Linked DNA regions of Homo sapiens: all the other regions are reported to be linked to region 4. Evidence: microRNA targets listed by miRTarBase, many of them from high-throughput screens and not tested one by one. Region 4 holds a microRNA gene; each other region holds the end of a gene's coding sequence.
Evidence for each region. Region 4 holds the annotated microRNA hsa-miR-6881-3p (AUCCUCUUUCGUCCUUCCCACU, at 1,965-1,986, opposite strand). A microRNA usually pairs through its seed, bases 2 to 8, with sites in the 3' UTR of a target mRNA and lowers its output. Matches are read on the target gene's strand: a 7mer-m8 pairs with bases 2 to 8, a 7mer-A1 pairs with bases 2 to 7 and ends in A, and an 8mer does both.

Region 1: miRTarBase lists SEC14L6 as a target of hsa-miR-6881-3p. Seed matches in the 3' UTR shown: 7mer-m8 at 2,176-2,182 and 7mer-m8 at 2,205-2,211.
Region 2: miRTarBase lists TP53INP2 as a target of hsa-miR-6881-3p. Seed matches in the 3' UTR shown: 7mer-m8 at 5,069-5,075 and 7mer-A1 at 3,967-3,973.
Region 3: the mRNA of SDHAF2 is a reported target of hsa-miR-6881-3p. The part of its 3' UTR that is shown has no 7-base or 8-base seed match.

What each region holds. Positions count from the first base shown.
Region 1 is chr22:30,519,347-30,526,462 of GRCh38, reverse strand. SEC14L6 (SEC14 like lipid binding 6) reads left to right here. Exons shown (of 12, transcript NM_001193336.4): 9 at 531-637; 10 at 713-852; 11 at 944-1,113; 12 at 1,354-3,664. The coding sequence ends at 1,466. Among named protein-coding and RNA genes, the nearest start is that of SEC14L4, 17 kb to the right of the region's middle.
Region 2 is chr20:34,708,909-34,716,024 of GRCh38, reverse strand. It overlaps TP53INP2 (tumor protein p53 inducible nuclear protein 2), which reads right to left. Exons shown (of 5, transcript NM_021202.3): 4 at 6,501-6,789; 5 at 2,589-5,967. The coding sequence ends at 5,718. It overlaps NCOA6 (nuclear receptor coactivator 6), which reads left to right. Exons shown (of 15, transcript NM_014071.5): 15 at 660-1,251. The coding sequence ends at 703. Among named protein-coding and RNA genes, the nearest start is that of TP53INP2, 8.1 kb to the right of the region's middle. RefSeq lists silencers at 5,827-5,996, 6,247-6,506, 6,547-7,106.
Region 3 is chr11:61,445,521-61,452,636 of GRCh38, reverse strand. It overlaps SDHAF2 (succinate dehydrogenase complex assembly factor 2), which reads right to left. Exons shown (of 4, transcript NM_017841.4): 4 at 5,904-6,696. The coding sequence ends at 6,566. Among named protein-coding and RNA genes, the nearest start is that of SDHAF2, 19 kb to the right of the region's middle. RefSeq lists an enhancer at 5,548-6,295.
Region 4 is chr15:74,409,397-74,416,507 of GRCh38, forward strand. It overlaps MIR6881 (microRNA 6881), which reads right to left and starts at 2,036; the gene lies at 1,961-2,036. It overlaps SEMA7A (semaphorin 7A (JohnMiltonHagen blood group)), which reads right to left. Exons shown (of 14, transcript NM_003612.5): 8 at 6,405-6,589; 9 at 5,442-5,550; 10 at 5,151-5,349; 11 at 2,489-2,616; 12 at 2,160-2,314; 13 at 1,899-1,960; 14 at 1-1,589. The coding sequence ends at 1,228. RefSeq lists enhancers at 1-344, 1-247, 2,253-2,753, 2,754-3,254.

The DNA of each region.
Region 1 (7,116 bases), not on the chromosome of region 4:
TTGTTCCTGCAATGCCCGTGTCCCTTTGTGGAACATCCTTGGCCATCTCAGAGCAGCTTGTGGGGAACTGACCCGAGCTTGGCCCTGCAATTCTGAGGGTGCTGGAGCCCTGGGAGCTGAGGGCAGTATCTGACCAGAAGGCTGAGTTCAGTCTCTAAGGGAAAGCGAAGACCGGGTCATAGCCTGCCTGACCTCAACCCCAGGCTCCAGGAGTTGCTGGTCCGAGTTCCTATGAACGTGGCCAATGGGCCAATACCTGGACAGATGTGGGGGCAGGGCCTGCAGGGGCAGTAAGAGAGGGGCAGGCCTGGGACAGGACCTAGTCAACACAGCACATGCTGAGCCCCAGGACAAGACCTAGGGCCACTTGGCTTCCCTCTTCTGGGACAGGACTGCTCTAGGCAATGGAGTGGCAAAAGCGCGCCAGGGAGGGAGAGCAGCTGGCCAAAGGACAGACCTGGGCTCAGCCCCCTCTGCCCTCTGTTGAGTCTCCTGAGTCCCTTTGGAGTCCCTCTCTTGCTCCCATGCAGACAACTGGAAGCAGGAGCTGACAAAATTCATCAGCCCCGACCAGCTGCCCGTGGAGTTTGGGGGGACCATGACTGACCCCGATGGCAACCCCAAGTGCCTGACCAAGGTACAGGGTGCCCAGAGGATGGGGAAGGAGGGGAGAAGCTGTGACCTAGTGCCCACACACCCCCTTCACCCACAGATCAACTACGGGGGTGAGGTGCCCAAGAGCTACTACCTGTGCAAGCAGGTGAGGCTGCAGTATGAGCACACGAGGTCCGTGGGCCGCGGCTCCTCCCTGCAGGTGGAGAACGAGATCCTGTTCCCGGGCTGTGTGCTCAGGTAGGGATGGCAGCCACTCTACACCTGGGCACATCTGGGAGGGGCCTGGAGCCCAGGCAGGGGGTCGCCAATGGGGCTCTATCCACTGCAGGTGGCAGTTTGCTTCAGATGGTGGGGACATTGGCTTTGGGGTTTTCCTGAAGACCAAGATGGGGGAGCGGCAGAGGGCTAGGGAGATGACAGAGGTGCTGCCCAGCCAGCGCTACAATGCCCACATGGTGCCTGAAGATGGGATTCTCACCTGCCTCCAGGCCGGCAGCTGTAAGAGTTGGCAGGGATGGCTCTACCTGGAGCTGGGGGCTAGGGGGAGGGTGCTACAATGTGCATCCAGGTCCTACCAGGTGAGGGCCCTTGGTTCTGGTGGGCACAGTGTGAGGCTGGCTCTGGGCTCTCAATTGTGGCAATGGTTCCCTGGTCTGGGTACCCACGCAGAGATTTACCACCATGGAAGTCAGAGTCCCAGGTGGGGCATCTTGTCTGAATGTCTGTCCCTCACTGCAGATGTCCTGAGGTTTTACAACACCTACAGCCTGGTTCATTCTAAACGCATCAGCTACACCGTGGAGGTACTGCTCCCAGACCAAACCTTCATGGAGAAGATGGAGAAATTCTAGGTGAACCTCATGGTCCCCACACCCTCCTCTTTGATCTCTGAATCCACAATGAGTTCACAGCCTTCCCTGGCCAGACCCTGTTCAACCTCTCAGGAACAGGGATTCTACAACAGCAGGTCACAGCCTATGCATCACAGCTGGCCCACTCCTCAGGAACGGCTGGGACAGTGTCCTAGTGGTGGCCCGATGGTCACAGCAAAGCAACACAGACACTCCATCCCCACTATGACCTGCTGTGACCTCAAGCTCAGCAAAAACCCCAGGCTTTTTTCTATCAACCAATACCAAGAAATAAGTTACTCTTCTAAAATATAGTATTAGGCCAGGCATGGTGGCTCATACCTGTAATCCCAGCACTTTGGGAAGCCAAGGCGGGCAGATCATTTGAGGTCAGGAGTTCGAGACCAGCCTGGCCAACATGGTGAAACCCTCATCTCAACTAAAAATACAAAAATTAGCCAGGTGTGATGGTGCCTGCTTGTAATTCCAGCTACTTGGGAGGCTGAGGCAGGAGAGTCGCCTGAACTTGGTAGGCAGAGGTTGCAGTGAGCCGAAATCATGCCACTGCACTCCAGTCTGGGTGACAGAGTGAGACTCTGTCTCAAAAAAATAAAATAAAATAGTATTAATAGGAAATTTGAAATATAGTATAGCTGACAGATCAGGAAATAATTACCATTGAAAAGATAGTTTATTACTCACAGTTCCCAAGAGGAGGGGCCGCTGTGCCATAGGGGGAAGAGGAGGGGTCCCCAGGGAGGCATCAGGGCCGAACATGACGCACATGAGACAGAAAAACTCTGGACAAAGCAACTTTACTTTTATGATGGTTTCTGCAGGAAGGAACTGGTGAGGCAGGGTAAGCAGGCTTGAGATTTGCTAGTTTGAATAATTTCAGCAGGCTCCGTGGAATAAGGGCTGTCACTAGCTGTCTGGTATCTTGCCCTGGGGTGATTACAGCAGGTGGATAGTGGCCTGGAGTGTGAGAATCTGATAAAGGAGGTAGTTGGAATATGGTTTATATCAGTTGGTTTGCATTCGAAAAGTGCATTTGTGGGCAAGTTGCTGTATCTCTAGGAGAGGCAGGCCCTCCAGGATTAGCAAAACCTCAGATGTTAAAGCATGCAGAAAATAAAAGACATGGTTCAAATAGTTCCCTAACAAGCAGTTGTGCAATGCTGCTCTGAATGGAAATCCAACCTCACAGTTTCCCATCTAGAAAGAATTTTAAACTCTCTATTCTGTCTTCCACATACACGTTCCCTCCCACTGTTATAGCATCTGAGAATCTGCTTGAGCTCTGGATCTTCATCCAATCTCCTGATTAAGATTTCAAACTGGCCAGGTGCAGTGGCTCACACCTGTAATCCCAGCACTTTGGGAGGCTGAGGCATGTGGATTGCTCGAGGCCAGGAGTTTGAGACCAGCCTGGACAACATGGCGAAACCCCGTCTCTACGAAACATACACAAATTAGTTGGGTGTGGTGGCGGCGAGTGCCTGCAGTCCCAGCTACTTGGGAGGCTGAGGTGGGAGAATCTGTGGAACCCAGGAGGCGGAGGTTGCAGTGAGTTGAGATTGCACCACTGCACTCCAGCCTGGGAAACAGAGCAAGACCCTGTCTTAAAAAAAAAAAATTCAGACTGAGCCTCACAGTGGGACACTAGGTCGGTGTCAGCCCACAGTCCTACTAGAGTGCTGTCCTGCGATCAGGCCTCTTTGGGTCTGGCTATGCTGTCAGCTGAGATTCTGCCCAGGATCCTGTCACTCACATGTTGTCCCAGCTTGTTCTCAATGTGGCAGCCCCAAATGACAGCCAAAGTTCTTCCCTAATTGCCTACTTTACAGGAATCCTGTCCAAAAATGGAAACACGGGCATTCAGCAGCCCTTGCTCTCCCTCAGCCCCTCCCCTGACAGCCACTGATCTGTTCTTCATCCCTACACTTTTGATTTTTTCCAGAGTGTCATATAAATGGAATCGTGCAATATTTAGCCTTTTGATTCTGGCTTTCTTTAGTCAGCATAATGCCTCTGAGATTCATTCACTTTGTTGCATGTGTTAATATTTAGTTGCTTTTCGTTGCTGAGTAATATACCACTGTATGGATGGACCACACTGTGTTTATCCCTTCCCCTGTTAAAGGCTGGTTGAGTCGCTTCCAGTTTGGGGGCGATTATGAATAAAGCTGTTGTAAGCATTCGTGTACAGGTTTTTTGTGATCCTAAATTTTCACTTCTCCAGGGTATCAATACCCAGGAGGAGAATTCCTGCTGGGACCTATGGGAAGGGTACATTTAATGTCACGGGAAACGGACAACGTGTTTTGCACAGAAGTTGCACCATTTTCCCAAAAGCAGCATGTAAGCATCCCAGTTGCTTCCCATCCTTGCCTGGTGCTGTTAGTTATCCTGATATTAACTATTCGAATAGGCCTGTGGTTAATGTGGTTTTTATTTATTTATTTATTTATTTTATTTTATTTTTTTGAGATGGAGTTTCACTCTTGTTGCCCAGGCTAGAGTGCAATGGCATGATCTTGGCTCACTGTAACCTCCACCTCCCGGGTTCAAACAATTCTCCTGCCTCAGCCTCCCAAGTAGCTGGGATTACAGGTGCACACCACCACACCGGCTAATTTTTGTATTTTTAATAGAGACAGGGTTTCACCATGTTGGCCAGGCTGAGCTTGAACTCCTGACCTCAGGGGATCCACCCACCTCAGCCTCCCAAAGTGCTGGGATTACAGGCATGAGCCACCATGCCCGGCCAATGTGGTTTTAATTTACATTGCTTCAATGACTAGTAGTGCTGAGCATCTTTTCATGAACATGAAAAAGGCATGGTCGGCTGGGCATAGTGGCTCACACCTGTAATTTCAGCTCTCTGGGAGGTTGAGGTGGGAGGATCACTTGAGCCCAGGAGTTCTCTGTCTCTGTAAAAAGAAAGAAAAAGGAAAGGAAAGGGGAAGGGGAAGAAGGGGAGAAAGGAAGAAGGAAGGAAAGGAAAGAAGGAAGGGAAAGAAAAGGAAGAAGAAGGAGGAGGAGGAGAAGAGGAAGAAAAAGAAGGAGGAGGAGGAGAGGGAGGGAGAGAGAGAGAGAAAGAAAGAGAGAAAGAAAGGAAAAGAAAAAGAAGGAAGGAAAGAAAGAAAAAGGAAAGAAAAGAGAAAGAAGGAAAGAAAGAAGGAAGGGAGGAAAGGAAGAAAGAAAGAAAAGAAAGAAAAAGAAAGAGAAAGAAAAAGAAAAGGCAGGCATGGTGTGTGAGATGAGACAGGCTCGAGTTCAAGTGCTGTTTCTAGCACTCACTGCCTGGCTTTGGCCAGTGATCAGACCTCTCTGAGCCTCCATCTCCTCATTGGCAAATGGGTGAGATAGCGTCTGCCTCATAGAGTGGTTGCTATAGGATAAAGGAGATTCCGCAGGCACCAGCAAGCCTCCAGGGGAAGGCAGCTGCTATTGGGAGCTGATAACTAGTGTTGGAGCCCACCAGGGAGCCACGCTGCACTGTCCCACAAGCTTTCTCCATGCATCTTGGTCCCATCTTCCTGTGCTTGTCCTGGCTGCCCTACAGGCCCCTGTTAGGTGCCCCCAGTTCTGATCTCCAGGTGCACTCTGGGCCTAATGCCCTCCCTGCATCTCCTCCCATCTGGCTGCCAGCTCCACCTGCAGTGTGGGCCAGCCCTGCCCCTGGTCTCTTGCATGTCGACCTCAGAGACTCCCTTATGCCTGCCCCAGAATTCAACCGTCCCACCTGCCCTGTTTCTGGACTTCTCTTAATTCACCTGATAGTTCCAAGGGTGCCTGCCTGCTCTTTCCAGGCCATGTAAGGCTGGCTCCTCATCTCACCCTGCAGAGACCTCTTGTCCAGATTCAGGGCATGTGTCTGTTCTCTGTGACCTTTGTGTAGCCACTGGTTCCATACCTATTGGCTTCCACTGCTGTTAGCTTGTGAACTTATATGACTTTCCATGGACTCTTCCTTTTTTTATTTTTATTTTTTAGAGACAGGGCCTCGTTCTGTCACCCAGGCTGGAGTTTAGTAGCATGATCATAGCTCACTGCAGCCTTGAACCCCTGGGCTCGAGTGATCTTCCCACCTCAGCCTGCCATGTAGCTGGGACTACAGGTGCACACCACCATGCCCAGTTAATTTTTTAATTTTTTTTAGAGACAGGGTCTCACTCGGTTGCCCAGGCTGGTTTCTAACTCCTGGCCTCAAGTGATCCTCCTGCCTCAGTCTCCCAAAGTAGTCCACACCCAGCCAGACTATTCCCTTTGAATGGTGTGTGCACATGGGAGAATCACTGGTGTAATACTAAATCAATGGTTTAGTATCCATCAAAGTTCAATAAGCACTGTGGAGAGGTGACACAGATGGCAGCCGCCCATGTGGGCCCTGGGCATTGGGTAAACCATCTTCAGCTCTCAGTATACACATTCCATGGCTGGGCACGACCTTGGCCATGGTGATGATAACTCTAGCAGCCGGGAAGGCAGCCCCTTGTGCATACTCCAGCTTGGTGGTGGCCCCCACCAAAGGGAGGGGGAGGCCTGGGTCTCTGCTCTGGAAGAACAGATGGGCCCTGGATTAGGAGCTAGGTGGGCTGCTGGCCTGAAAAGCCTCTTGGTAGCTGAAGCCTCGGTGGTTCACAGAGGGCCTCCTGACATTTACCATCTAGAGTTCTCCACTAACAACCTCCAGCTCTGGGCTGGTGCACAGCATGGAGTAGCTATTGCATAACGAATGATTTAATGAATGAGTGAATGAATGAATGAGTAATGTCAAAGTCCTCTGGCTCAGCTGAGCATGAGGCTCTGATGAATTGCGGGACACTCTGCTAAGGGATTCGTCTTCTGTACCACACCTCCCAGGGCCTCCTGTCTGACCCACAGCCCCTTAAGCCTTGGCCTCAGGCTGGCTGCCAAGGACAGCCACTGGGAGCCGGACCCTCATGTCCTATGGCTGGTGCTCAGCAGGCAGCAATTTCCTGGGCCAGCCTAACCACCACAGCAGGACTTTGTGGCTGAGCCTCCAACAGTTCAGGCTTCAGGGAACTCCTAGTCCCCTTTCCAAGGGTAGGGGGAGACTGGTGTGGCTCTCCCATCGCTGGGAGGATCACGCTGCAGCTCCTGCCTCATCAGGTGTTTTCCATCCAGCTCTTCATCCTGCCTCCCCCCACCCTGCTCCTGAAATTAATCTTGCCCCCTGAGGGCCCCTTCCTTCCAGTCTTTCTGTACCTTGTCACTGAGTGTGTCCTGTCAAAAGGAGCAGGCAGGCTGGGTGTGGTGGCTTATGCCTGTAATCCCAGCACTTTGGGAGGCTGAGGCGGGTGGATCACCTGAGGTCAGCAGTTCGAGATCAGCCTGGCCAACATGATGAAACCAATTATCTACTAAAAAATACAAAAAATTAGCCAGGTGTGGTGGCGTGCACCTATAATCCCAGCTACTTGGGAGGCTGAGGCAGGAGAATTGCTTGAATGTGGGAGGTGGAGGTTGCAGTGAGCCAAGATCACGTCGCTGCACTCCAGCCTGGGCAGAGCGAGACTCTGTCTCAAAAAAAAAAAAAAAAAAAAAAAAAGAAGCAGGCTGAGCCCCTTGGGGTCTGTGTGCTGATATTGTCCCAACAGGGTGACCAGGGATGGGAAGACAC
Region 2 (7,116 bases), not on the chromosome of region 4:
AACTAGTCTCAAACTCCTCACCTCAGGCAATCCGCCCACCTCGGCCTCCCAAAATGCTGGGATTACAGGCGTGAGCCACCACGCCCAGCCTTCCACAATCTTGATATAACTGGCTGGGCCATAGTAGACCCTCACTGACCAAGGCCCATGGTCATGTTGTTTAGACCTTGACTATAGCATGACAAAAATGGTTCCTTACTGTGAAACAATAGCTTGGCTCCAAAAGGGATCCCAAGGCAGGTTTTTTTTTGCATTCTAACAGAATTTACTCATTTGCTTATGGCATTACTCGTTGATTTCTCACCAAAAGCATTGTCAGTCTGTCTATTACACTTCGTTTTATGATGAGAACTGGTGAGGGAAACAGTGGGTGAATTGCCCAGCTACAAAGGCTCTCTCCACCCTGCACTTTCTCTAGTCAGTGTGCTTCATCGCCACCACCTCTGTCACATTCCAATTCTGCCCAATGCAGGACCACACCCTCTTCCCACGTAAGTCATCAAGCAAAGCCTGTGACTCTCTCCATTCAGAGCACCCCTTAGACAGATTCTGAGTTGAGTAGGGCTCCCCTTAGGTCTGCCCTGCTTGTTGTGGACTGTCTAAAGGGCACTGCTGTAAAGAGTTACTTCCACTGAACATGTCCTTTCTTTCCCCCACAGACATAACCAGTGCGGTGCAATCCAAGCGAAGAAAATCCAAGTAAACAAGCAGGACTGCGACTTGATACTTGGAAATGTGTGTGACTTTTACAAAGAGCAATTTTGAGCTGTGACTTTTTTAAATCAATTTCTGTACAGTTAGTAATTTTAATAATGTGGCCCTTTTCCTAGTCCCTGCAACCTGTTTCATAAAGTGCAATGGGGAAAGCAGGACTGTTGAGCCCTTTTGGTGTTGCGAGTTGAAGTTCAAGGTTTCTAAAATGTTGTCTTGTATTGAAAGGAGCTAATGCCATTATAAATGTTACTAGTTTTCACATTTCCTAAGCAGCCTAGAGTACAGGGTGAGCATTTTTAGATCTCCTAATGATGTATTGTGCCGTGGAAGTACTGTGTGTGAATAGCAGTAGTGGGGGCAAAAGCAATCTTCTCATTTGGAAATGTTGTAAATAATTTTATTATATAGTGTTTTGGATGTATTTGTTGTAGAAATGGACCAGTGAATAAAGAGAATCTAAGGATTTGTACAATGTGAAATAACGTGTTAAATAAATGTCATTGTCATAGAACATAAAGTTATGTTATTGGTAAGGGATTTTTGGGTGATCAGCTCTTTCTTTGGACCTTAACTAAGCAGACACAGCCTTGTGGATGGAATTCCTATCTAGTCCTCATTGAACCTGAGATGCCCGCCTGGCAAGTTGAGGAAAATGTACATACTTGCTCCCTCACCTCATTCTTGGCTTTGAAGAAACTAGCCCTGTTCAGCACTGTGCCAGGTATTTTGATATATATTGCTCAGATTTCTTTTGATGCAAATAACAAAACCAACTTAGAGATCAATGGCCACCCAGGATTTTCTAGGGACAGGAAGCTGTCAGCAGCTGAGATGGCACTTTTTCACCATGTCACATATCTGCTCCTCCATTTGCATGGTGGATTGCTCCAAAACAATTGTGCTGACATCTCCTCCTTGCAGGAGGTAAGCCCAAACTGGCCTGTAAGATTGTGCCAGCATCAAGAATCTAGTCCAGGGCCGGGCATGGTGGCTTACACCTGTAATCCCAGCACTTTGGAGGGCCTAGGCGGGTGGATCACCTGAGGTTGGGAGTCCGAGACCAGCCTGACCAACATGGAGAAACCCTGTCTCTACTAAAAATACAAAATTAGCTGGGCATGGTGGCACGTGTAATCCCAGCTACTGGGGAGGCTGAGGCAGGAGAATCGCTAGAACCCAGTAGGCGGAGGTTGCGGTGAGCCGAGATTGCGCTATTGCACTCCAGCCTGGGCAATGAGTGAAACTCCGTCTCAAAAAAAAAAAAATCTAGTCCAGTTTAGGTCAGGTTTCCACCTTTAGTTCTGTGGTTAGACAGAGCAGCTCCCAAATTAAAGGGGTCATTTTGTGCTGTATATTTCAGAGATGTCCACTACATTTCACTCTGGCTGTCCTTCTTCAAAATGTGTGTAGTCTCCAAAGCCAGCTGCTTCTGCCCCACCCTACCTGCAACTTGAGGAGACTCTGATGCTTGGGGCCCTGGCCTTGTCTCAGCCTGGGCTTCAGCCTTCTGCTGCATCTCCCCCAGGATTAGACTTCATCCTTTCCCCTCCAGTGGCTACTTGCCCTTGCTCTAACCCAGTGCCTGAGACCACAAGGATGAGTTTGGTCATTCTGTCATGCTGTTATTCTCATCTCTATTTCAGCTGTCTTCATGTATGTGTCTTGCATTGTAAGGATCCTCTAACAGTAGTCATTTATGAGTCAGACCCCATTGTCTGGCTCTGTTCCCAGTAAGCTTATCTCCCCTCTTCCTCTCCCATATGACACACACACCAGAACCAAGGCCAGCTTTATCATAATATCCTATGCCACTACTGTGCTTAAGATTACAAGATGCTTCTCATACTTAAGCTCAACTCAGGCAGAAAGGATCATGTGCTTTAAATATATTTTTATTTGTTTTTCTTTATATTAATTTTTTTCTCCCATAGAGGAATAGCATTACAGTCTAACAATCAGAATTCTGTTACACACATACACAGGCATGCCACATGACCCAGTTGAGGTGGTTGTCTCCTTGAGTCTGTTGACACGTCACATGGTCAAAGTCTCCTCATTTCAGCCAGTCTCAACACAAAACACCCAACAGGGATGCACTCAACTTGTTGGTTCCATGTGGAACTAGGTGGCAGGGCGAGAGGGAAAGTAGTAGAAGGGGGCTATGGTGTGTCTGCATTCAGTCCCCTCACATAAAGCCACATGGATCTAGGGGGGTATCCAAGAGCTCTGGTGGGGTCCGTGTTGCACCTAAGACATTATAGGTCAGAGCAAGTTGCTCAGAGGGTTCCAGGCAGGGGGCTGGGGAGCAGGCATACTCTAAAACAGCACCAAACTGCATTCATACACGGTGCCCTGCTGGGGCTAGACTGGCAAAGGCTGGAAAGACACCCAGCTTGAAGGAACCACTCAGACTTACTGGGGAATAACTGGAAGTCACTGTTTGATGTAACTGGGACTCACTCTAGAAACGGGTCCCTCTGACAGTTTTGGCAAAGTGCTGGTAGTACTGACATTAATACTCACAAATTGATACAAACTCCTCTAGGGCCTCAGAAAACATCAATCAAAACAGACTCTCTAACCCCCTCCTAAGGTTGCATAGGACTTTGAACTCTGGTTCCCTCATGTATTCAAGTTCTGTGGTTTAAAAAAAAATCCTGAAGCATGCTCAAGGTGAAAGGCACGTACACAGTCAATACAGTATGACAAGGGCTGATGCTTCAGGAGTCAGACTAGCAGGAGACTGAGTAGTGTTGGTTCTTAGAAATCTATACACAATTAAAATATTGCCACACTCAAATGCTACAGAATCTATAGGAAAGGTACAAAAAAATATGAGCCTTGCAACCAAGCAGGTGAGAGATTGGGTTCTAGAATACAGGAGCCTCCAGAAATATAGGTAAACAAAAGGCCTTTTAAAATTTGAGCCAAATGCCCTATAACTTAAACTCTTCCCCCACCAGAAGGATCATGGGCACCACACAGGACTGAGCCTAGGTCCCAGCTGGCAGTGAGGAGTAGGCAAGAAGGGTTGGAGGGAGATTCAGCTCTTGGAGGTGCCGAAGACCCTAGGCTGGCTGTGAAGTGCCCAAGTGGTAGCTGGAAGAATAAAAGCAACTAGGTTCTGAAGGAGAACTTGGGAGAGGAGCAAGGCTGTCAACTACTGGGGCCCTAGTGGACTGGCGTGGGAGCTTTGATCCGTTTTTAGTGTTAATTTGGCTTATTCCCTGGAATAGGAGACCCCATCAGGTCTTCCTCTGTCCTCATCCCAGCATCCATGGGGATACCCCATCCCTTCCCCACATACCCCCCATGAGGCCTGGGGCTATAGGGTCAGGGAGGGCAGCTGCCTTTGCCCTCATGGGAATGCAGAGTTTTCTCCAAGCTTCAGCTTGGCTGTGAGGCCTGGAAACCTAGAGTTGGGGTGAGGGGAGGACCTATGTTCATAGGTACCAAGAAGTCTTAAAAGTTCCTAGGAAGAGTGAGCACACACTAGAAAAGGACGGCTAGAAAGAGGAAATGGGAAGCAACTCAGGGCATCCCAAGAGGCTGTTGCTGGTGTCTGAGCCCAAAATTCAGTCTCACCACAAGAAGGGGAGGCTGGTGGCCCCTGCCCCTTCTGTCTCCCCCAGGGATTCAGGTTCCCTCTTCCAGGTATTTACTGGAGGAGAAGGGGAGGGGGATCATAGGGTACCCATTTCTCCCCAGCAACCTAGAAAGAAAGAGAGGCCTGTGGGAGAAAATGAAAAGAGGCCCCCTGAAGGCCCTGAACCTGGATAGGAACAATTTGCAGATTGAGACAGTGGGAGTCCTGGACTCCTACTCAGGACTGCTGGCTAGCCATACTGAGCAGGGTGTGAAATACAAGGCCAGAGGCAAGGTGAAGACTGAGCTGTCAGCCTTGGGATGGCTTCACCCCATGGTGTGTCCTCCAGCATCACTGCTCTGCACGCTGACCTAGGGTGTGTGCCCTTTCCCTGCCTAGAAGCCCTGTGGCCTGCATGTCTCCTAAGCTAGTTCTAGCACCTTGGGCTTGTGAACAGACGGCCAGGATGGTAGGGCCTTGCCCAGCTTCTACTCGGGTGACGTGTTGGGGGTAGAGTGGCAAGGTACTAACTAAGCCCTTCAGATTTCAGGGCCTGCAGAAGGGTGGATTATAGAAAAGGGAAGTGGGGGCAGACTCCAGGCTTCAGCCTGGGAGCAGGGTTTGGCCTCTCTGAGCAAGCACAGTGCACACTCCCTTGGTGCCCTGCTCCCTGCAGCTTCTCAACGTGTCTGTCCTGTCCGCATCTCCAATAGGCTGCCTCGTTCCCTAGATTCCCTCCATCTTCTCCCTCTAACTCACGTCTCACAGTCCTCTTCTACATACTGTACCTTTCCAGGCCTAAGCAGCTCCACAGAGTACCGCCCCCAAGGCAGAAGGAAGGGGAGACTAAAAGCAAAACCCTGAGCCCTTACTGGAGGGCAATGACAGCAGCCCAGGCTGCACAGGCTCTACCTGGTCAGAGCTGGGCTCAGGGTCCCCACCATTTGGTAGGGAATTACTGGGAATGAAGAATAAGGGAACAGGAGTGAGTGTAATGCCAACCATGGGATAGTGTGAGACATGTAAGGTGGGAGTTGAAGGTGGGGAATGAGCCAGATCAGGGACTGGAAGAAGCTTTCAGAAATAGGGGCAGGCCAGAGGTAGAGGACTGGAGGGCAAGGGTGAAAGGGAGAGACAGGGATGGGGACCAGAGAAGAAAGGATGGAGGGGCCAGGAGTAGGGGGCATGGATGATTAGATGCTGGGTATGGGGACCAGGAGTGAGGGTGAAGGGTGAATGGGTTCAGAGGCAGATTAGAGGATCAGAGATGGGGAAATTGAGGGTGTCGGGGAAGGAACGGCTATCACCCAACCTCACACGCTTTAAGAAGGGAGGTTTCGGTGTCCAGCCCGAGGAGTCGGAGGAGCCCGACAGGGATCGGGATCGGCAAGGGGTTCGTGGCGCGGCCGGTGGACGCTCAGTAGTTGAACTGGCGCTGGCACGGCTGGTAGATGAAGCTGCTCTGGTTCTTGGACCGGCGCGGACGGCTCTCGCGGGCTCGGTTCTGCCGCTGCACCGCCTTGGCGCTCAGCGCGTGGCGCTCTGCCCGCTGCCGGGCCCGCTGCAGCCGCCGCACCTGGCCCGCCTTCTCCAGCAGCGCCGCCCGCGCTGGGAGAGGAGCGGCGTGGCGCGCGGCCCGCGGCTCGCGGCGGGCGGGCGTCAATTCCCTGTGAGGACAGAGCCAGGCTCGGTCAAGCCGGGTAAGCTGGGCGGGGGGTCTAGAGGGCGCTGCCATCTCCCACCCTTGCTTCGGCTCAGTTCTGTGTCTGTTCAGATTGGGGTGCCCGACGCCCTTCTTGTGGGTACCAACCCGGAGGTGCCTCCTCGGTTCTAGCCCTTAACAGGTAAACTGGACCTCGGGGGAGACTGGACCCCCACCCCCTATTCCACCCTTGCCTTTCTGTTTAAGTCCCACTCCCTAGGCGCTCCAGCCACGCTCCTCAAGCCTCCAACCCCGGCCCCAGCCTCTTGGCCACGCCCCTCCCTCTCAAGCCCCGCCCCTCCGTCCTCAGGCCCGCTTCTAGCCTCGCCCGGAGGCCCACCGGCCCCCCACTTTGTCTCAAAGGCAACCCTCCCAAGGCCGCTACCCCCTCGAGCGCGGGGCGGGCTCCTGGCCCCACTACCCCAGCCTCCTAGCCTGGACCCTGGCCTCCAAGATCCGTCTCCCTGGGCCTCCAGGCTCCGCCCCCGGCCCGCTCACCCTTCGCTGAGGTCGCCGTCAGGCAGGGCCGCGTCCGGGAGCGGGGAAGGGGACCCGGGCTCTAGCACTATGGTGCTGCCGGTGACGTAAACGGACATGCTGGGGTGCTCGATGAGGAGGTCCTCCAGGGGACTGCTCTGGAGGCGGGCGGGACCGAGTCCAGGCCCCTCTGCCGTAAAACAGGCGGGAGGGGTAACAAACCAGCTCTCGTCCATCAAGGAGGGCGCGGGCGGAGGGCGGCCCGCGGGGGCAGGGGCGGCCCCGGGGCTGGGTGGAGCCGCGTAGCTGTCTACGGGGCGCGGGATGGGAGCCGTGCAGAGGAGGGGAGCAGCGAGGAGGCACACACACACACACACACACACACCGGACAAGGGGGCGGGGAGAGAAAGGGCATCGTTAGTCAGACCCGCAGCCCGTCCGCAGCGCCCCGGGGCACCCACGGGCCAGGCGTCTCGCCCTGCTGCCCTAGGGGACCTGACGTGCGGGCCTCTCCTGGGCCGCCAGGAGAGAGCCCCGGCTTTCATGGGAAGGGGCCCCGTGACCCCACCTCCAGTAGGCTTGGGGGACTCCCCCGTCCCCCAGCAGCGCCCTTCCCCTCCGCTGCTAGGCCATCTGC
Region 3 (7,116 bases), not on the chromosome of region 4:
CTACCAGACAGACCTGGCTCAGTGGCTCATGCCTGTAATCCCAGTGCTTTGGGAGGCTGAGGTGAGAGGATCGCTTGAAGCCAGGAGTTCCAGACCAGTCTGGGCAACACAGCAAGACCCTGTCTCTACAAAACTTTTTTTTTTTTTTTTGAGACGGAGTCTCTCGCCCAGGCTGGAGTGCAATGGTATGATCTCGGCTCACTACAACCCCCGCCTCCCGGGTTCAAGGGATTCTCCTGCCTCAGCCTCCTGAGTAGCTGGGATTACAGGCACGTGCCACCACGCCCGGCTAATTTTTTGTATCTTTAGTAAAGACGGGGGTTTCACCATGTTGTCCAGGCTGGTTCGAACTACTGACCTCTTGATCTGCCCACCCCGGCCTCCCAAAGTGCTGGGATTACAGGCGTGAGCCACTGCACCTGGCCCAAAATAAACTTTTTTTAAAAAATTAGCTGGGTGTGGTGGCATGCGCCTGTAGTCCCAGCTTCTCAGGAGGCTGAGACAGGAGAATGCCTCGAGCCCAAGAGTCAATCACACCACTGCACCCCAGCCTGGGTGGCAGAGTGAGACCCTGTCTCTATAAAAAGGAAATCTACCAGACAATCGTAACTGATTGCTGAGGGTGAATTCAGAACAAAAGAAGTTATTTCTATATTAAAAGTAGGTGTCTCAGAGCTCAGTGGCCTGGTGTCCTCATCCCTGCTGTGAGGATAGACCTGGCATACAAGGCTAGATGTCCTGCTGCCTGCTCTCACAGGGTCAGTGCCTGAGGCCCATAGACAGATCCTTTCGTGCCTTCCATTCACTTATCCCTTCTTCAGAGGACCTCTGCGGCACGAGCTCCATCTCATTGATCTCCGCGTCTTCTGTGTCTGGCACTGGGTGTAGCACATTGTGCTATGCTAGTGCAGACAACTTCTGCTTGGCAATCAATGAAATAAAGCACCAAGAACAGTGAGCTCCTCAAGGACAGACAAGATGCATTCTTCTCTATCCCCAGCATTTAGTGAAGACCATGACAGTGTTTTTCCAATTAGCTTTCTCTTTTTTTTTTTTTTTTGAGACGCAGTTTCACTCGTTGCCCAGGCTGGAGTGCAATGGCGCGATCTCGGCTCACTGCAACCTCCACCTCTCGGGTTCTAGTGCTTCTCCTGCCTCAGCCTCCTTAGTAGCTGGGATTACAGGCACGTGCCACCACACCCGGCTAATTTTTTTTGTATTTTTAGTAGAGACGGGGTTTCACCATGTTGGCCAGGCTGATCTTGAACGCCTGACCTCAGATGATCCACTCACCTTGGACTCCCAAAGTGCTGGGATTACAGGCATGGGCCACTGCACCCGGTCTCCAGTTAGATTTCTAGGCATCACTTCTCCTATTTGGACCAAGACAACTACCTGTTTCTGCTTCTGCTGCAAACAGTATCTAATACACCATCTATGAAAACCTTCTCACTTCTGCATGACTCCGCTGAGATGGGAGCCCAGAGAAACAGGTGAGTGAGGGTCCTGCTCACAGAGGGCCTGGCCTCAGAGCCTTGGGCCTTAGGAGGAACCAGCACTAGTTTGTCAGCAAAGGCACTGGAGCCAGTGGGTGCGATAGAGGTTGTGCAACTCATCTTGGGACCCTGGAATGAGTTCTATGTGGGCTTCCTAACAGGCACATCCAACTCTCAGAGGCAGCCTCCCACTTGGATACAAAGGACAGCCAGTGATGGGACGGCCCAGAAAGCATAAGAGCTCATCTCTGCTGCTCAGGGTAAGGAGAAAACGCTTGAAGCTGGGTAGAACTTGAGCCCTTCCCTCTGGCTCCCCTCCAAATCCACAGGAAGTCTCTGAACTCCAAGCTCTCACCTGGAGAGCTAGGCTGCACATGTCCTCCTTGGAAGGCTCAGATGGTTAAGTCTAGAGCTGCTGAGGCTGTGACATATGAGTCATGGTCCCCAGGTCCTATAGGGAACCAAGAGAGGGTGGCCCAATCTGTGCAAAGTTGTCCACACCAGCAGTCTGCCATGGACCAAGACAAGATTCAGGATGAGAGGTCGTTAGAAGAGAGATGATGATGCTTTTCATGTTTTGAGGCAGGGTAGCACATGGTACCTAAGTGCAAGGGCCCTGGGGCCCACTGCCTGGCTTCAAACCCTAGCCCAACCGCTTCCTATCTGTGACTTTGAGCTAGCAACTTTATCTCACCGAGCCTCACTTTCCTCATCTCTAAGACGGGAATAATCATTGCACCTATCTCACGGTATTGTGGGATGAAATGACGTAAAGCACTCAGCAGCACTGGGTACACAACAAGCCGAACTATTAGATGTTACTACCAAGTATTACTGAGGGTACAGGGGCTGTACTAAGCTCTCCAGGGGCAGGACTTTATTCAGTCCTTATACCCACACTGTGAGGTCGGGTTCCTTTTCTTTCCTTTCCACAGATGAGAAACAGAAGCTTGGAGAGGTTAAATAATGTGTTTCAGGTCACCCAGCTAATCAATGGGAGCTCCAGGATTCTAGGTTAGGCCTGATTCCTAAACAGCTCCCCTTAACTACTCTGTTCTATTTCCCCTAAACACGTGTTCCAGGGCATCACCAGAGGAGAATATTTTATTAAATATTAGCCAAATCACCTGAATCCACTGAGAAACAGAATGTACATCTTAACGTTCTCACTTGCTGAAAGTTCCATGCTGTGATGTGTTGTTACAGAAAATGATATATCCACCCTCCCCCACTTTTTTCCTTTTATACTCTAATCTCATGACAGATTATACAATCCCCTTCTTAAAGAAACATTCTCCTTTTTGAAAGGAATATTTGGCACTTTGGGAGGCTGAGGCAGGCGGATCACATGAGGCCTGTAGTTCGAGACCAGTCTGTCCAACATGGTGAAACTCCGTCTCTACTAAAAACACAAAAATTGGCCAGGCATGGTAGCGTGCACCTGTAATCCCAGCTACTAGGGTGGCTGAGGCATGGAATCGCTTGAACCCAGGCAGAGCTTGCAGTGAGGGGAGATCCTGCCACTGCACTCCAGCCTGGGTGACAGTGAGACCCTGTCTCAAAAAAAAAAAAAAAAAAAGGAGTATCTGGGGTCTGAGATCCGGGATCCAACAAAAGGCTTTTAACTCTTCTTTTGCAGCTATAGGTGATGATAAATCTACCCATCTCCTTTAAAGACTGATGTTGTCCTGGATAGCTTAAACTTTCTACCACCCCTCTAACAAACTGCTAACAACACTTGTTTCTTAAGCCACAAAAAGTACTGCTGGCCTGAAGCCACCTATCCCACCAATGCCATCTTCCCTGACAGGAAAATTCGAACACCACTCCTCATTCCCAGAGGGTTCACTGGGAAACTGAGGTGTCAGGAGTTAGTTTCACTGGGTACTGATCAGTGTCATCAACTTGATAGCTGCGGGATGGTGAGTCCACTGTCCTCAGATACTACAGAACATACTATTAAGTGGGGCTGTCAGCTCAAAAATCTCACAGACCTGCTTGCCATCTACAGCTGTTTAGCTTATCATTAAACCTTCCTCTCTTTGTCTAGCCACAAATAGCTGCAGATGGACTGAAGGATAAATGAGAGACCCCAACTATCCCATCGGAATCTTTTCCCAGTGATGTTTAAAAATATGAACCAGGTCTGTATTGGTGCCACCCTGGCTGGAGCAGAAGACATACCAGATGACCTCCAGATAACACTCAAAGCCAGTAAGAGTGCTTCTACAATGACCCCCAAAAGACACACTCTGTCTAAGGCACAGAAAGCTCCAGCACAAGGTGTTTGGCTTATGGATTTTTAAGACTTAGGATGATTAAAAGGAAACGATGGAAAGAGAACAGCCTTTCCTGACCCAATTTAAGGTGTCACGTGGAGAGCCTGTGCAGGACTCACAAGACCACTTGAGTCGGTCAGGACAGGGCCAGACGCTCATATGCCCCACACAGGCTCTGAATGAGGTCAGTAAGCAGGGATGTGTCAAAGTAAAAGGAATGAGTCTAGCTTCTGTGCATTAGCGATCCTTCGGGGGCTGCTGGCCCTTGCTATATGTTTATTAATTCCTAAAAAAATGCACTGTGGCCGGCCTAGTTTTACTTAATGCCTAATAAAGGGAAAAACTGTTTACATAGCATCCCTGGGCCTGACAACTGAGCAGGTGAACTTAGCAAGATCCTTCACTTTCAAAGATGACACAATCCAGCAGCCTGGGAGGAAAACAATTCCTCTAGAAGCATGCCATTCCCAGGTGAAAGCGGCAGCAATTGAACATTGTGTTAAATAAGACAAAATCAGGATAAGAAGGGATCAAACCCGAGGGGGAGAAAAGTTCCAACTACATCCTTGGCTACTGGGGTTTGTTGCATAACGTGCAAAGGATAAATGGGTAAGTCACCGCCCAATTCATGTGCACTTCGTACAGTCCAGATCTATGTCTATATATAAACTCCCGGCCTGCTTAACATTCTCCCCAGGGTACATAAATGCAGCCCGAGAGAATAGCCAGAGTCTTCAGCAAGCTCCCAGGGAGACGTCTCCTTCCTCGCCTGCCCTGCTTCTGCGAGTCTCACTTCCATTCCTTGCTTAGGGGAGAGTGCTAGATTTTTCCATCAAAGGTCTTGTCACCAGGGTCTGTTTTCTCTCTCGTCTTCACTGGGAGGTAAGACATTCTGTGGTTCTATTAATAGGCTCAGCTTTCTGACCTGCAGATGAGAAACCCTGGATGTAGCTATGGTGACCTCATTGATATGCCAGGCAATTTGTGTTAGGGACAGGTTTTAAGTCTCAGACTGAGGCTATGACTAAATGCTGACATTCATATCTAGAGTACATACTGTGCAAGTTACCATGTAAGAGCTTTGTGTGTTTCATCTCATCAACTAGCTGAGACAGGAAGCATTGTCATCCCCATTTTATAGATGAGGCAACTGAGGCTCAGGTCAATTCATGTATCCAGCAGGTAAGCAGCAGAGCCAGGATTTAAATGTGTAACCAGTGCACTGCGCTGCTTCCTCACAGAAGCTTCACTGGGTGATCAAGTTCAGATCTACTCACTTGGCGAAGCACCTGGCAGATTCCTACCCACCATGTAACACAGAGGTCATGTCTCAGAACTGTCACATCTATTTGCCACAGCTTTCCCAAACAGAGACTTCTATTAAATTTCCAGCAGTAAGGCAGTGTGTTCTAGTAGAAAGTTCAAGAGCTTTGGAGGCAGACTGAGCTATACTAAATTCTGCTTTTTCGACTCAATAGCTACCTGACCTTGGACAAATTACTTCCTCTCTCTGAGCCCACTTTCTTATGTATAAAATACAGGTAACACCACTAGTCTAGAGTGCTGTGAGGCTTAACTGTGATTACGTAAAGGCTAGATCTCTTCCCTTCCCTCCTGAGCCACCAGGGATACTGAAGAGCAGGCAGGAACCATGAGGTGGCTCTGTAGGAACCCTGGAGCTCAACAATGCTGGAAACATGTGCGTGTGTAGTCCCTGTGTGCGGCTCCTATAATCACCAACCACCTGCTCATCAAATCTGGCCGACCTTCTTCTAGTCAACACCTTTAGATGCACCTGGTCCAGTCTGGGTGACTGATTCTACTGCCTAGATTACAGCTCTGAGGGCAAAACCCCTCCAGGGAGGGCACCACTAGCAACACAGAAGTCACACAGCCCTAGAGCTTTTAAAAACACTTCTAACTAATTCATTCTAATATATTATTTCTTATGTATTATTATTTAGTCAACTAATTGTGAAGACTGTAGGAATGAGGGGGAAAGTTTTCTATAGTGCTACATGAAAATAAAACCTGTAATTGTGAACTTGTAAAACTCTATAAACATGACTATGGGTTATATGAAAATAGACAAAATTAAAATTAATTGTGAGGGCTGGGAAATTGTAAATTTCCTTTTTTCAGTATGCTTTAATAATTCTCTTTCAAATTACAAAGTGCACGTTTTAAAGAAAGCCCAATGATGAAGATGTTGACTCCTAAGCAGTGTGCCCACACCACTCCTGCCTGTGGCCCTCATTCTGCCTGCTGTGCCTTTGAAGGATTCAGCTCAGGAGGCTGGGATCAGCTTCCCTTCGCAGAAGGAGCCATACCAGGTTGGAAGTGGGGAGTTCCACTTCAACAAAGCCCTGGGCCACTGAGGGCGGGGAGCTGCAGGGAGGGCGGGAGGCTTTCCATACAGCACGCACAGCTGGCTGCCTCTTTTCTTTGAGTACACTTGGGCTGAGGCAATGAGCAAGCACAACTGCTTCGCCTGCAGTGCCCTCTCGTGGCAGACTTGCCTCTAGAGATAGCAGCCAGGCAAAGCCTGCATGCCAGCGCTGCTGACAAATCACTTTTGAGGCTCAGAGCTGAACAAAAAAGTATGAGAATGAGTCACATTGTGCATTTACATGTATGTCCTAGGAGAGGGTTATGTCCATCACTTGAGGCAGGACCAGTGGTCTGGGGTAGGGCAGCTGGGCATCTAAGAAGCCGGAAGCAAGGCTAACGTCCATCATAAGTAGTTACCATCCACAGACTGAACCCCCATGCCAGGCCGTGGAGCACAGCTCAACGTGGCTTTTCAAAGAGGTACTCAAGATCTGGGGCACGCAGTCTCTGCTCTTTGTTTTTGTTTTTAGCAAAGTCTCTCAGCAGGGCCATGACTTCATTTTCAAATATTTCTGGGGCTGGTTTAGCTTCTGCAAGAGAAGAGTGGGCAGAAAAAATTATGCCATAGTCAGTCAATGCTCAGGTATGAGAATCTTAAAACTCGAAACACTGGCCAAGAACCACAGATGGATATATAGACTGTCTCCATCCTTCTTCTAAATATACACGATGTTAGCCTATACCAGGGGGTGGCAAACTGTGTGAGCCTATATTTGCAAGTCGTTTTATTGGAACAGCTGCTCCCAATGGTTTACATATTACCCATGCTCCTTTTGTGTTATGACAGCAGAATTGGGTACTTGCAACAGAGACCATATGACTACAAGTAAAATACTTACTATCTGGTCCTTTATGAACAAGTTTGCTGACCCCTGGCCCGCACAATCTTGGCTGTACTATTTTGCTTTGCATTTGGCAATTCCATTGTTCCCCAGACATTGTGTTTTCCC
Region 4 (7,111 bases):
GGCCAGACACAGCCGGAGAAGGGCCCAGCTCCCCCCTGAAATGGATGGACAGGGCTGGGGGCAGGGCCGCCTGCCTGGAGAGCTCGGCCCAGGCCATCCCCACCGGAATTTTCACAGTTTAGCCTAAGTTATAACATGTCCTGAGCGAAGGTGGGAGGCTAGGAGCATGGAAGCACAGCCCCTGGGGAAGGGGGCTGAGAGGAAGGGAGGAGGCCCCCCGCCCCCCAACCCTCAACGCCAAGGGCAGAGTCCTGGAACCTCCCCCTGAGGACCCGGCTCGTCCTTCCAAATGAACACGGTGAAACTAGGGCTCAGTTTTCTCCTTCATTCTCCCGTTTCCCTCACCCCACCCCCTCCCATAACCACCCCCAACACTAGGGGCTCCAACAACGTCCCCCTCAGACCGGGCTCCCAGGGCAGAGCCAGCTCATGCCACTCTCCAAGAACCCATGCCCGTCTCCAGACTCTTATCTCATCCCCGGGAGCCTCAGACTGGGATCACCCCCGCTCCCCAACCCATCCCTTCCCAGCCCCTCCCTTTCCCACCCACCCCCCCGCATGTAGTTTTGGTATTTTCATACAGATGCAGTCGGAAGTAGCTATACATGAAATAAGCCTAACATAAAAATAGAGCTTTTTCCGTCCTTCCGTCCGGAAAGCAAACATCCTTCAATAAACATGCAAGGCGGCTGTCCTGTGGGACCCAGGACCAGAGAGGGAGCTGCAGAGGACAGGGCTGGACAGAGGGTAGCCCTGGGTCTTCAGGAACACCAGCCACCCAGCCATGAGAGAGGGAGGGGAAGGAGGCAATGTGGGTACCAAGAGTCCAGAAGGACTCAGGCCTCAGCCCCAGGGTCGAGATGGAGTCCCAGCTCTCCTATCCAAACCCACTCCCCGACCCATGGGCTCTTGGGCTGGGAGCATCGCTGCATTTAGTCAAGTTTGAGGAGTCTGAAAAATATTTTCCAGAAGATAAAGTCTTGGGTCATCGATGCCCCAGCTTCACAGTCGGTGCCCTCATTCTCAGCCCCTCACCATCCGTGCGCCACCTGGGGCCCAGCAGCCGCCTGCGGCTGGACGTCTCCAGGCCTGGCATCCTCCACTGGGTTATTCTGTCCCCTGGAAGAAGTGGCAGGCAAGGAGCTCCCGGGCCAGCCGGCTCTGAGTGTGAGACGTTCTAGTGCCCTGGGCTGCAGAAGCCTGAGGCATGCCCAGCCTCGGGAGGCCCTAGTGGACCAGCAAGCCAAGAGTGAGTGTGGGCAGCACCCCCAGCCAGAGGGAGGCGGCCAGGGCACAGGCATGACCCAGCAGGTGCTCGGCCATGATGCCGTCCTCGGGCAGCAGCTGCCAGTGCTGAGCCTCGCGGAAGTAGGAGCCCTCCTGGGCCTCGCAGAAGTAGTGGCCGTACTGCTGCGCCGTGAGGTTCTCGATGAACAGGATGCAGTTGGGGCTCTGGTGACCAGGTTCGCAGCTCTGCTCCACGTTCTCCTTGTGGCGCCATGAGTAGGTGGCGTGGCGGGATTCCATGGGGCAGCTCAGGTAGTAGCGAGAGTTTGGGGCCAGGGAAACCTTCTGCAGTGGGGCCTTGTCTGGGGAGGCAGTGGGGAAGCAGCCGTGAGGAGGGACAAAGAGCTCCCAGGGGAGGATGTGTCCTCCCCACGGACTGGGATCCCAGGACAAGGCTTCTGAATGAACGTGGGGAACCCAGCCCTCAGCGTCCTCCTTTTTTCTCCCGTCTCGCTCATCCCACCAAGAGGGCTCCCTCTGCAGGACTGTATCCTGCCCCATGTACCTGGGGCCCACAGGACAAGGCCATGTCTCCCTCAGACCAGGACAATCAGGGCAGGGCAGTACCCCACTCATTGGGCCACAGCCGCCAGCAGGGCCAGATCAGGTACCTGGTTTGGGGTTGGGACACTCCTTGTGTGGCTCGGCTGGATTAATGGATTGCAGCACTGACCTGGAGTGGGAAGGACGAAAGAGGATCAGCAGATACAAGGCTGCAGACCTGACCCTCCTATCCTTACCCCAGTGCAGTTCCAGCAGAGAGGAGGGTCCCACAAGAAAGGCCCAGTACCGCCACCTCCTCCAGCCCGACAACACCTCCCCCTCTCCCATGCCCACCTTCTCCCAGGGACGAGGGATCCCGGCCAACGTACCGTTCGGAGCTGTAGATGGAGATGCAGCGGCCTTGGTCCCAGCCGCAGTAGGGGTCTCGGGACATGAGGCAACCGTGGCAGCCCCCGCCATAGACCTCACACAGGTCCAGGGGCACCTGGCTCACCTCCCACTGGGAGCTCACATACAGCTTCCTCTGGAAGGACAGCAGGATTGGGTCAGGCCCGGGCCCCACCCCACACTCAGTCCTAAATGTCCAGGCCCTAAGGCCTAGAAGCTCTTAAAAGAACACACAAATCACATGCAAAGGAGCCCTGTCCTCAGCTGCAGTCACTGCATAGCCCATGGGACGCAGTGGGGGAAGGCTCACCCGCTCAGCATCCAGCGACATGGTCTGGATGGCAGCCGCGCGGCGGAAGGGCTGGATCTCCATGATGTTGAAGGCGAAGCTGTGCTCCTGCTCCCCCGGTTCCACCACCTTGTGGATAGTGCCCCTGTCTGTGTATGGTGGACAGAGGGTCAGTGGGCGGGAGTCCCACTGAGGGGCCAGGCAGCTTTCCTCTAGGCCGGGGAGGGGTGGGAAGTCACAACTCAGGCAAGGGTCACAGGACTGGTGTGGGCAGGGCGAGGAGAGCGTGACTGGGGAAGAATGTGGGAGCCTAAGGGCAGCCTGGAACCTTCCAAGGCTGATCCAGAGAGGCCATCCCAGGAGGCCCAGGGGTCCCTGGATACGGCCTCCAACATTCCCAAGGCTGCACGGGAAGAACAGAAGCAGGAGCCCCACACCAGCAAGGTCAGTGCGGCTGCTGTCCATGCATCACCTCGTTTAACCCTCCACAGCCCTGCGAGGTGGCTGTCATCTTCCCCACTCCACAGATAAGGAAATCAGGCTCAGAAAGGCTAAGCCACTTGCTCAAGGTCACACAGCTGGTGAGCAGCAGAGACCGAGTTGGAACCCAAATCTGTCAGAGCCCAACCACTCAGCTGCTTCTACAACTCCCCTGCCTCCTGGACTCTTAGGGAATATATTTACTTTAAATACATTTTTTTTTTATTTTGGAGTAATTTTAGATTCCCAGAAAAGTTGCAAAGATAGTACAGAGAGCTCCAATCTACCCTTCTCCAGTTCCCCCTAATGTTACCATCTTACATAACCACGGTATATTTGTCACAACTAGGCAACTGACATTGGTGCATTACTATTAACAAAACTACAGACTTTATTTGGATTTCACTAGTTTTTCCACAAATGTCCTTCTTCTGTTCTAGGATCCAATTCAGGACTCCACGTTGCATTTGATCTTAGGGGATATCTTAATTTTATAAAATCTTAGATCTAAAAAGGATCTTGGATTCTAAATCAAGAGTTCCCAAGGTCTTATAACCGAGCTGCCTGCCTCCTAGACCAATGCTCTCTCCGTTCACAATTAGGGACCAATGGGCACCCTGACCCCTGGTCCTCCCAATCCTACCTCACCTGCTCTCCCAGTTTCTAGAATAGCCTACCTCCCTCTCTCCCTCCCTCCCAATTTCCCAGGGCATCACCTGCCCCAAAAAAGCAGTCAGATGATTGCCTGCCTAGGATGTTTCCTCTACACATCCGTGATCCTCATCTGTGGACTCTGAGATGTGGCCAGATGCTCCTTGGGCCTGATAAGGCCCCACCCCAGCCACTGCCTTCACAGACATACTGCCCTATACCTCCTTCCAAACCAGCCCCAGTAACAGCATACCCTTGGCAAAATTCTCAGGAAAAGAGCCAATACTTCTCCCAGTTGTGAGAGCCTCCCATTCTCTGCAGAGGACTTAGAAAGCTCTATTTTTCAGTCTAGCCCAAATACGAATGATGCAGGCTCCAAAATGGTGCCTCCTCCACTGCCCTTAGAACGAAGACACCTTCTCTAATCACTCAAGTGTGCTCACCTCCCAAGTCTGCAGGAAGGGAATCCATGGCCCAAGTCCAGCCTTCCTTGTCCTAGCTCCTGCTCCCAGTTCCGCACTGTGTGACCTCTCCTCTTCTGCTCCCCAGTGCCCTGCCATCCCTGGCTGACCACAACAGCTGTGCCAGCCACTACTGGAGCCAAGCAAGGATGGGGGCCCAAGGGTGTAGCCGGGATGAATAGGGAGTAAAGAGGCAGGGAATCAGGACCCAGGCCCTGCCCTGTGGGAAATTCCTCTCCCCAAGGCTTCCAGGAGCCAAACAATGGTGCTGGGGTTCCAGTTTCCTACAAGGTCACCAAAGCCGAGACAGTTCCAAGGTGAAGCAGCAACAGGAGATCACATGGGGAATGTGAACAACTGAGGTTGGGCGCCTGGGCCTGAATTGAATGGCCCCAGGGGTGCTAGAGGCCCTTTCCAGTCTCAAGGAAGGCAGCTGGCATGGGAAGCTGCGACAAACCCAACTCAGGACTGGCTCCTCCGTGTCCTGTGGCTTTCCAGAAAGCAGGAGCATCTCCCACGGCATTCCACCCAGCTTCCCCCAGCAGGGCCTACTCCAGGGAAGAAGAGAAGCTGCCCCTGTCCTCTGTGAGATGGCAAAGGTTCTGCCCCCTGGAACTCCTTCCTCATACCTAATTTGTGCCCCATCAACTCCTCAAATGTTTCCTCTCACCTGCACAATCCCAAAGACAGGCGCAGGGCCTGACTCCCTCATTCTGCCTGGCAGAGGCCAGTATCCCTGTGGTTCAGGCCCCTCCTCCTCATTTGCCACGTCTCTTCCTACCATCTTCTTCCCTGAGTCAGACATCTGGACCAAAGGTGCACCTGGCTTTGCTCAGACTCTCCAGATTTCCGCCTCCAAATCCCAGTGCTTGCTTTTCTCCCATCCCCCTTTCCCTCTTGCCCCTACCTCCTCCAGGAAGCTCTCCCTGCCTGACTCTTCCACACCCACACACATTAACCCCTGACAACTCCAGTCACTCAATTATTCCTTCCACATGTAAAGATCCAACCAGATGTTAACTACATTATTCCTTACACCTTTCATGCCCGTTTTTACAAAGCAAACTGAGGGTCCCGGGGTAGCCTCTCACCTGTAGTTAGGTAAAGCACATGAAAGGTCTCCCCGTGGCTGGCTTGCATGCGGTGGACGGCCACTTTCTGGTAGTGGTATTTAGAGTGGAACAATGGCGTCTTCAGAGGCCCCATGGGCTCCACCCTCTGCGCCACCTCTGGGTGACGGTCAGCCACCTGGAAGGTCTCTGTGGGTATCGGCTGCTGGTCTGGGAGGCACTGGGCAAGGAGAGCAGGCCCAGGTCAGTGGGGTGGTGGGAGGTGAGGCAGAAGGAGGGCTGGGCCTGGGCCACGGCTGGTGTCACGCTCACCTTGCCAGGCCGCGGGTTGGGAAGGCTTGAGTGGTAGCCCTTGAGTGAGGAGGTACGGAAGACCTTGTCAATGTCACCGAGGGAATACACACAGACGGCTGAGTAGTTCCTGCAGTGACATGGAGACCAGCTCAATGGGGGGCCCAGAACCCACCCATCCACCTCCACTCACCCAGGCCAGCCTTGTGCCTGGCACTGAGTTGCCAACCACCACTGAAAATGGGGAGGGATGGAGAGGAGGAAGGAGAGGAGTTCAGCCTAATTTCTTTGTGCTGCAATTTAAAACCACAAACTTGTATCCTGTTACAGAATCACTGAGTCTAGAGGCCATCTGCTCTACCCAACCCCAAGGCAGGAGGAACCCCATCATAGGCTGAGCAGTTCTCTAGCCCTCCCTGGGCACAGGCTGTGGGGTGCTGATGCCCCAGGAGGCCAGACCCCCAACCCCTTCCCAGCCTGGGGGACCCCACTCACCCAGGAGCCACAGAGCAGGGTCTTGGCTTCCTCCACTCTATCCCTAACTCTCCCCACACACACCCAACACTTCCGCCTGCCGTGTGTTCAATCAATGAGAGTGATTAAGAAGTGTGAATTATCGGGCTCAGGCAGTGCCTGAGCAGGTGTAATAGCACCCAGCTCCCCGAGAGATGCTTCAGCAGCTTCCTCCTGGGCCCAGTGTCCACTCTCGGCACAAGCAGGTGGTGGGACACACAGGCACAAGTGCAGTCATGAGTGTGCATATAGGGCATGCACACACACCCATGAGTGCAGACTCACTCACACAACAGTACATACATCGCACTGGCTGTCCCCCCACCCCACACCCAGCAACAGCCCAGCCTCTTGAGCCTGCAGCCCCTGCTCCTGCCACACCAGGGAGGCCCTCAGCAGGGCCCAAGGCCTCCTGTCCCTACTGGACACTGAACCAATGCCAGCCCCGGCCCCAGGACAAGGGCCACTCACCAGGGGTTGGAGAAAACACCATAGACCCTGGTGTCCCTCCACTGGCCGCTGGGGTCAGGGAGCAGGAAGACGTCTTGCAGCCTGTTGAAGTTCTTGTTGGTGGCAGCATCACTGCATACCAGCATGGCTTTCAGAAAAGTGTTCCACTTGGAGACTGACAGTGAACTTTCCCCACCCTGGTCCCCCTGGAAGGGTAGAGGGGAGAAGAGGCCCCTCAGCACCTGCCCGGGCTTCCCCACACACCCCAGGAAACCACTGCCAGCAATATCAACACCTGGGCCCAGAGGAGGAAGGCAGGCTGTGAGGGGCCAGGACCTGCCGGGGGTGCCCCAGGACTCAGGGCAGGTCTCCAGATGAGACTCCAGCAAGCAGGCCTGGCTGATCCAGAGCCCAGGGCCAGCAGTGCCCAGGGTCAGGGCAGGTGAGAGTGCCAGGTCCCCACAGAGCAGACGGACTCAGACACACATTTACTGACTCACACACCCACACACGTGGCACAGCACATTCACACAGGCAAAACACACACACACACACACACACACCCCATCATACACACGCTCACACGCCATCATACGTGCACAGGAGCTCAGCCACCTTTACCCACACACAGACACATGATGCTCCATGCACACACAGCTGCTCCCACAGTCCCTGACACAGACCCACTCATACATCCACACAACTTCTACATGCACACGGACACACAG